3 separate regions of the Homo sapiens genome follow, and all the other regions are linked to region 2. The links come from fine-mapping of genetic effects on gene expression. A gene starts in region 2. Each other region holds a variant in brackets. All regions are shown on one strand. Distances are from middle to middle. Region 1 has its middle 9.6 kb from the start of RHOXF1-AS1. Region 2 holds the start of RHOXF1 (Rhox homeobox family member 1). Region 3 has its middle 37 kb from the start of PGRMC1.

What was found.
Region 1: its variant is fine-mapped to the expression of RHOXF1 in whole blood (TOPMed, PIP 0.97).
Region 3: its variant is fine-mapped to the expression of RHOXF1 in gastroesophageal junction (GTEx, PIP 0.96).

What each region holds. Positions count from the first base shown.
Region 1 is chrX:120,025,288-120,028,048 of GRCh38, reverse strand. No RefSeq gene overlaps it. Among named protein-coding and RNA genes, the nearest start is that of RHOXF1-AS1, 9.6 kb to the left of the region's middle. The variant T/C (reference allele first, on the strand shown) is at 1,215.
Region 2 is chrX:120,114,560-120,117,320 of GRCh38, reverse strand. RHOXF1 (Rhox homeobox family member 1) reads left to right here and starts at 1,408. Exons shown (of 3, transcript NM_139282.3): 1 at 1,408-1,856. The coding sequence starts at 1,459. The region is part of intron 1 of RHOXF1-AS1 (RHOXF1 antisense RNA 1); the gene reads right to left.
Region 3 is chrX:119,197,550-119,200,310 of GRCh38, reverse strand. No RefSeq gene overlaps it. Among named protein-coding and RNA genes, the nearest start is that of PGRMC1, 37 kb to the left of the region's middle. The variant CA/A (reference allele first, on the strand shown) is at 1,381.

The DNA.
Region 1 (2,761 bases), 89 kb after region 2:
CAGTTTTCCCAGAACCATTTCTTAAAAAGATTATTTTTCCCCATTGAATGGCTTTAATGCCCATGTTGAAAATCAATTACCCATACATATATGAGTGTATTCCTGGACTCTAAATTCTATTCCATTGGTCTATATGCTTATCCTTATGGTAGTATCCCATTGTTTTGATTACTGTAGCTCTGTAGTGTGTTTTAAGATCAGGAAGTGTGAGTCTTCTAAATGTTTAACTTTTTCAAGATTATTTTGGCAATTCTTGGTCACTTCAGTGTTCAAGTACATTTTAGGATCAGCTTGTCAATTTCCAAATGACGTTAGCTGGGATTTTGAGAGATTTCACTGAATCAATCTGGGGAGTAGATCAAATTAAACAGTATTGCCATCTTAACACTATCAGGTCTTTTAATACATGAACATGGGATATCTTTTTATTTATTTCAGCATATTTGTGTCTCTGTGACAACTCTCATGTTTTCTGTCCTGCTGCTGTTGGCAAAAATGGTTCACCAATCAGGGAGGCCAATACTTTCCCCAGGTGGGCTTTCTTGTGTGCGATCAGCTGCAGTGTTTTAGATAAAGACTGTCACAAGAAAAGGGACACTGTAGGCTGGGCGCAGTGGCTCACACCTGTAATCCCAGCACTTTGGGAGGCTGAGAAAGGCGGATCACCTGAGGTCGAGAGTTTGAGACCAGCCTGACCAACATGGAGAAACCCCCTCTCTACTAAAAATACAAAATTAGCTGGGCGTGGTGGTGCATGCCTGTAATCCCAGCTACTTGGGAGACTGAGGCAGGAGAATCGCTTGAACCTGGGAGGCAGAGGTTGCGGTGAGCCAAAATCGCACCATTGCACTCCAGCCTGGGCAACAAGAGTGAAATTCCTTCTGAAAAAAAAAAATGAAATCAAAAGGGACACTGTATTTTAATAAAGTTGAAATTAAAATAAAAAAATAAATAAGTCCAGAGATAGGTTAAACACTGGAGCTGGTTAATTCAGAGGCTCGGTCATGGGGTTAAGGGAGCATCCTTCTATTCTGCTTTGCCATCCTTCAGGCATCAGCAGGATGTCCTCCATCCTGCCTCCCAGGCTTCAAAATATACACGGGAATATCCAGAGGGAGCAGAGACACTCTGTTCCTAAGTGTCTCTCTCAGGATTGAGGGGAATTTGACAGGGACCCCTCCTCTTCTCCCACTCTCTTACTTCCAGTGCCCCTC[T/C]TGCCCCCTCCCCTGACACCACACCATCCCATCCTATACCATGGACAAGAACTGCATCATTCACCCACGGGTAAACCTGTCTCTGGCATCTAGCATGGGAACACCTTGCTTGTTTCAGTTTGATCATGACTTCCCTTGTGAGGACAGACATTGTAACTGACATTCTAGAGTCAATATGGTTGTCTTTTCAGCCCAGCAACTGAGCATTGAAAGGAAAGCTGGACCACAGAACAGCGGACCATTTATCATGTCAGGAAGTCATGATTTTGTCACTTCCTCCGAGCCACACACTGAGAGGATCATTAGCTTCTTTCTAAGGACAAGGGTCTTAGAATGATTCCAGGGGCCTCATTAAGCACATTTCACCTCAGAGATAAATCTGAAATACTCAAAGAACATTATTAGAAAAGCCAAGGTCACACAGCAGGCAGTGAGGCCAGGATGGTCACCCAATCACTATGGCTCCACCATCCATGCAAGGTAGTGAGAGGTGACAGCGTACTGGCAGCCCCTGCAGCCTTCGCTCCCTCTCGGCGCCTCCTCGGCCTCGGCGCCCACTCTGGCCACGCTTGAGGAGCCCTTCAGCCTGCCACTGCACTGTGGGAGCCCCTTTCTGGGCTGGCCGAGGCTGGAGCCGGCTCCCTCAGCTTGCCTGGAGGTGTGGAGGGAGATGCGCGGGCAGGAACCGGGGCTGCGTAAGGCGCTTGCGGGCCAGCGCGAGTTCCGGGTGGGCGTGGGCTCAACCTGCCCCGCACTCAGAGCGGCCGGCCAGCGCCACTGGCCCCGGGCAGTGACGGGCTTAGCACCCGGGCCAGCAGCTGTGGAGGGTGCGCCGGGTCCCCTAGCAGCGCCGGCCCGCCGGCGCTGCACTCGAATTTTCGCAGGACCTCTCGAATTTTCGCAGGACCTCAGCTGCCTCCCCGCGGGGCAGGGCTCAGGACCTGCAGCCTGCCATGCCTGAGCCCCCCTCCACCGTGGGCTCCTGTGCGGCCCGAGCCTCCCCGACGAGCGCCGCCTCCTGCTCCACAGCACCCAGTCCCATCCACCGCCCAAGGGATGAGGAGTGCAGGCACACGGCGCGGGACTGGTGGGCAGCTCCACCTGCCGCCCAGGTGCGGGATCCACTGGGTGAAGCCAGCTGGGCCCTGAGTCTAGTGGGGACTTGGAGAACCTTTATGTCTAGCTAAGGGATTGTAAATACACCAATCAGCACCCTGTGTCTGGCTCAAGGTTTGTGAATGCACCAATCAGTGCTCTGTGTGTAGCTAATCTAGTGGGGACTTGGAGAACTTTTGCGTCTAGCTCAGGGATTGTAAACGCACCAATCAGCACCCTGTCAAAACGGACCAATCAGCTCTCTGTAAAACAGACCAATCAGCTCTCCGTAAAATGAACCAATCAGCAGGATGTGGGTGGGGCCAGATAAGGGAATAAAAGCAGGCTGCCTGAGCCTGCAGTGGTAATCTGGTCTGGTAATGTTTCATAGTGTGGAAGTGTTGCGCTTTTCCTCTTTGCAATAAACTTTATTGCTGCTTATTGTTTGGATC
Region 2 (2,761 bases):
GACTCTCTTAGCGCTTTCCTTTCTTTCATTTTCATTTTATTTCTTATTTTATTATTTATTTTAAAGAAAAGGGGCCTCTGTCTGTTGCCCAGGCTGGAGTGCTGCCATGTGATTCTAGCTCACCACAGCCTCAAACTCCTGGGTTCAAGTGATCCTCCCATCTCAGCCTCCTGAGTAGCTGGGACTAGTGCAGGAGCCACTGCACCAGGCTCTTCAGGGTTTTTCTTCGTAATTGGGCTTATTGGGGTCAGTGGTAGGAAGGCTGTGTAGTTACAAGGCTCTGTGGAGCAGAAGTGGCCCCACATCCAGTAAGCTGCATATCCTTAAATCCCAAATCTCCATCCCAAGATTGGAGATTTTTGGCAGGTATGCCCTTACTGGTGCTCTTCCTATACCATCCCCGATTTTATTTATTTATTTATTTTTTGCTTGTCCTTATAGCACTCCATTTTGCCATGAGTACAGGTTTCTCTTGCATAGCCAAAGATATTCAGTCTCAGGCTAACAGATTCAGCCTCGTGTTTATTCTGTGTTGACTTTCTCAAAGGGTGCGTTAGATTTCTTGCAGAGCACATCTTACCACCCAGAATGCTCTGCATGCCCATCTCCAAGATCCCGATCCCAGCACTGAAGAGAGCATGGCAGCTCTGCTTTCAGTGCCTTTGCTGGAACTCTGAACAAGCAGCCCCCAGTCAATCATTTCTGCTTAATTAATAGCCCGCGCCCTGTGCATGCTGCCAAATATGGAGGGTCAGGCCATGAGATATTCTCCAAACTTTTACTCAAGGCGTCCTATGGTCACCGTGAGATCTCACCTCCCCTCTGAGCCCCCAAATCAGCTTTCCTCAGGGTAATAACTAGGCCCGAGTAGGGTGTAGTCAGCAAAGCTGCAAGCTGGGGCCCCATGTTGCATACATATATGCCTCCTATTGGCCCTTTTCTTCTCCACACTGCCCCTGTGTTTTGGCCACCCCACTCCACCCTCAACTGCCACCCCCACCCACGACCCATACCACACCCCTCACCCCCACCCACAACCCCTACCCCCACCACGCACCCTCCACCCACACCTCCCATCTCCACCCGCTACCCCCACCCCCACCATGTACCCCCACCGGCAACCCCCACCCCAACCCACAACCCCTACCCTCACCCGCAACCCCCACCCTCACTGTGCACCCCCCACCCTCCACCCACACCCCCATCCCCACCTGCACCCCACCCCACACTCACAACCCCCCACTCCCACCTGCAACACCCCCACTCCCCACCCGCACCCCCCAACTTCCCATCCCCCCACTCCTCTCCATTCCCTCTCTTGCTTGTGCGCATAAGCAAGTCCCACTCATTGCAACTGTAACCAATACCAAGCATGAGAACAGGAACTAGCTCCACCCTCTAACCCCCACTCCAGCTGCAGACGCCACGGAGTTTGTGCAGGGGCGCAGCGCTCCAGCCATGGCGCGTTCGCTCGTCCACGACACCGTGTTCTACTGCCTGAGTGTATACCAGGTAAAAATAAGCCCCACACCTCAGCTGGGGGCAGCATCAAGCGCAGAAGGCCATGTTGGCCAAGGAGCTCCAGGCCTCATGGGTAATATGAACCCTGAGGGCGGTGTGAACCACGAGAACGGCATGAACCGCGATGGCGGCATGATCCCCGAGGGCGGCGGTGGAAACCAGGAGCCTCGGCAGCAGCCGCAGCCCCCGCCGGAGGAGCCGGCCCAGGCGGCCATGGAGGGTCCGCAGCCCGAGAACATGCAGCCACGAACTCGGCGCACGAAGTTCACGCTGTTGCAGGTGGAGGAGCTGGAAAGTGTTTTCCGACACACTCAATACCCTGATGTGCCCACAAGGTAAGTGGCCTGCTCCAGGAGCCACGAGATCTCCAAGTTCGTTTCGAGGCATCTTTTTCTCTCCCTTGCCCCACCCAATCATGAGGAAAAAGCCACTGGGGGTCCTTGCCTGCCTTTGTGCTGGTGTGGAGGGGGATATTTACCTCCTGGGCATCAAGGTAAATGTTTTATTGCAATGTTTATGTGAATGAAACCTGGAAACTAGTCCGTGCCTCCCTTTTATAAAGATGTGGTAAAATACACGGAAATATGAAATTTACCGTCCAAACCACTTTTTAAGTATAGAGTTCAGTTGTGTTAAGTATGTTCACATTGTTGTGCAATAGATCTCTAGAATTCTTCTCATCTTGCCAAGCTAAGTCTCTATACCAGTTAAGCAACTCCCCTTTTCCCCCTTTCCCCAGCCCTTGGCAACCACCATTCTACTATTTTATGTCTCTATGATTTTGACTACTCTAGGTATCTCATGTAAGTAGAATCATACAGTATTTGCATTTTTGTCACTGACTTATTTCACTTAGCATAAGGTCTTCAAGGTTCATCCATATCGCAGCATATATTAGAATTTCCTTCCTTTTTAAGGCTAAATAATATTCCATTTTATAGATACAGGTGCACACCAACAGTACATGGGGGTTCCAGTTTCTCCACATCCTCACCAACACTTGTTATTTTCTGGGGTTTTTTACATAGCCATCCTAATGGGTGTGAGGTGATACTTCATTGTAGTTTCGATTTGCTTTTCCCTAATGATTAGTGATGTTGTGCATCCTTTCATGTGCTTAGTGGCCACTTGTATATCTTCTTTGGAGAAATATCTCTTTAAGTCCTTTACCCATTTTAAAATCTGAGTGGCTTTTTCTTTCTTTCTTTCTTTTTTTTTGGTTATTGGGTTGTAGGAGTTC
Region 3 (2,761 bases), 920 kb after region 2:
CAGGAAAGATCAACCACTGGAGAAGAGAAGAGACTGGGAGTCATCACCATGCCCAGACAAACCTTCATGGATTCTAAGAACGGCTCCCAGAGATTATCTGAGAGACTTTATTTGCATAATAAGACAACTTTGGTTCCTGTGCAGTTCTGCCTCTCATCTTTCCAAGGAGAATCATTTACAAACCATTGTCTGAGCATTGGGCCTATTTGTTCATCCATTTCCCATTCCCCTATGAAGAGAGCATTTAAGCCTCAACCATCTGGTCCCTCTTTGAGTTCATGTTTTGTATGACTTCCATGCACACATGTGCACATAATAAATTTGTTATGTTTTTCTCTTGTTAACTTGTTTTTTGTTATGGGGTGTTGGCTATGACCTTTTATAAATGGGGAGAAAAGGAATCACCCCCTTTCTGCCCCTACAATGGCATTAAAGGCTTATATAAGAAGAAAGATCTCAAATCAATAATCTAAGCTTCTACCTGAAAAACCTACAGAGTAAAATAAACCCAAAGCAAACCAAAAGAAGGAAATAATAAGGAGCAGACATCAATGAAATTGAAAATAGAAAAACAACAGAAAAAACAATGAAACCAAAAACAGATTCTTTGAAAAGATCAATGAAAATAACAAATCTCTAGCAACACTGACAAAGAAAAAAAGAAAGACACAAATGATCAGTACCAGGAATGAAACAGGGGATGCCAACACAGGCACTGAAGACCTTAGAGGAATAATAAGGAAGTACTTCCAACAACTGTACACATAAATTTGACAATTAAGACAAAATGGGGCCTGGCGTGGTGGCTCTCGCCTGTAATCCCAACACTTTGGGAGGCTGAGGCAGGTAGATCACTTGAGGCCAGGAGTTCGAGACCAGCTTGGCCAACATGGTGAAACCCTGTCTCTACAAAAAATACAAAAACTAGCCGGGTGTGGTGGTGCATGTCTGCAATCCCAGCTACTCAAGAGGCTGAGGCACGAGGATTGGTTGAACCCAGGAAGTGGAGTTTGCAGTGAGCCAAGATCGCGCTGCTGCACTCCAGCCTGGGCAACAGAGACAGACTGTCTCAAAAAACAAACAAACAAACAAACAATAAAAAAAAAAAACAAAGATGAAATGGAATGGATCAATTCCTTGAAAACCACAAACTACTAAAACTACCCAAAATGAATTAAATAGCCTGAATAACTCTATAATTATTAAAGAAATTGGATTAGTTATTTAAGACATTCCACAAAGAAAAGCCCAGGCCCAGATGGCTTCATTGGTAAATTTTAACAAATATTTAAATAGAAAATAACAGCAGTTCTACATAATTTATTTCAGAAAATAGAACTTACCTTATGAGGCCAGCATCACCCTAATACCAAAAACAGA[CA/A]AAGCTAGTCCAAAAACCAATCAATCAAGCAGTCCATCAGTCAGTCAATTAATCAAATTACAGACCAATATCTCTAACGAATATAGACTCAGAAATCCTCAACAATATATTATCAGATGGGATTCAGCAACTTATAAAAAGAATAATGCACTATGACCAAGCGGAGTTTATCCAGTAACATTTCTAGGAGTTCTTCAAGACCTACAACTCTTCAGTATAAAGAATGTCATTCTGACCTTGGCATACAAGGCTTTTTTTGAGCAAGCCCCTGCCTATCACTCTGCTCCATCTCTCATTGCTCCTGTTCAAGCTAGGGCAGTACCCAACAACTTGGAGTTACCACTGCCCTCCACACACATCCATCTGTTCTAAACCCCTCTCTGGCCCTATCCCAGACCAGCTCAGCCCAGTGCAGTCTTTGCCTTGCTCATTCTCATTCTTCTTTCCTAACTTGGCTTAAATGCCACCTCCTCCAGGTCCCCTTCCCTGACTTTCCAGGCTAGGCCAGGCCCCCTTCTTGGGGATCCCACAGTCTCCTGGGGCTTTTCTCTCTCTCAGATCCCTGGCCAAACTGTATTGGGATTGTCTGTCACTTGTTTGCCTTACCTATCTTTTTAACCCAGGGCCAACACAGAGTAGGTTTCTAGCACTGAGCACTTAAACAGTTGGGAGGCAAGGGGTCCCTCCTATAATTGTAGAGGGGAAAGGTGGTTAAACAAGGGGAACCACTGGAGTCCCCTCAAAGGCAAAGGGGCCAGTGACAGACAGACACCTGGAAATCCTCCTTTATTCCAGGAGGCTGACTGGGGGGTTATCTAAGCCTCATCTCTCCAACTGTGCCTTGGTTGTATGCTGCCCTTGCATCTGTGTGGAGGCAGCAATAAGCCTAGGGTCAAGACTCCAGATGACTCTCTGTTATCTATTTTAAGTAAGTGTGTGTGTGTGTGTGTGTGTGTGTGTGTGTGTGTGAGGGTGGGGGGTGGGTTGTATTAGTCCGTTCTCATGCTGCTAATAAAGACATACCTGAGACTGGGTAATTTATAAAGGAAAAAGATTTTAATGGACTCACAGTTCCACATGGCTGGGGAGGCCTCACAATAATGTTGGAAGGCCAATGATGAGCAAAGTCACGTCTTACATAGTGGTAGGCAAGAGAGAGCTTGTGCAAGGGAACTCCCATTTATAAAACCATCAGATCTTGTGAGACTTATTCACTACCATGAGAACAGTATGGGGGAAACCACTCCCATGATTCAATTATCTCCACCTGGCCCCGCCCTTGACATGTGAGCATAATTACAATTGATTCAAGGTGAGATTTGGGTGGGGATACAGACAAACCATATGGGGGATTGCTGGTTGGGGGGTGGTCAAAAGAGA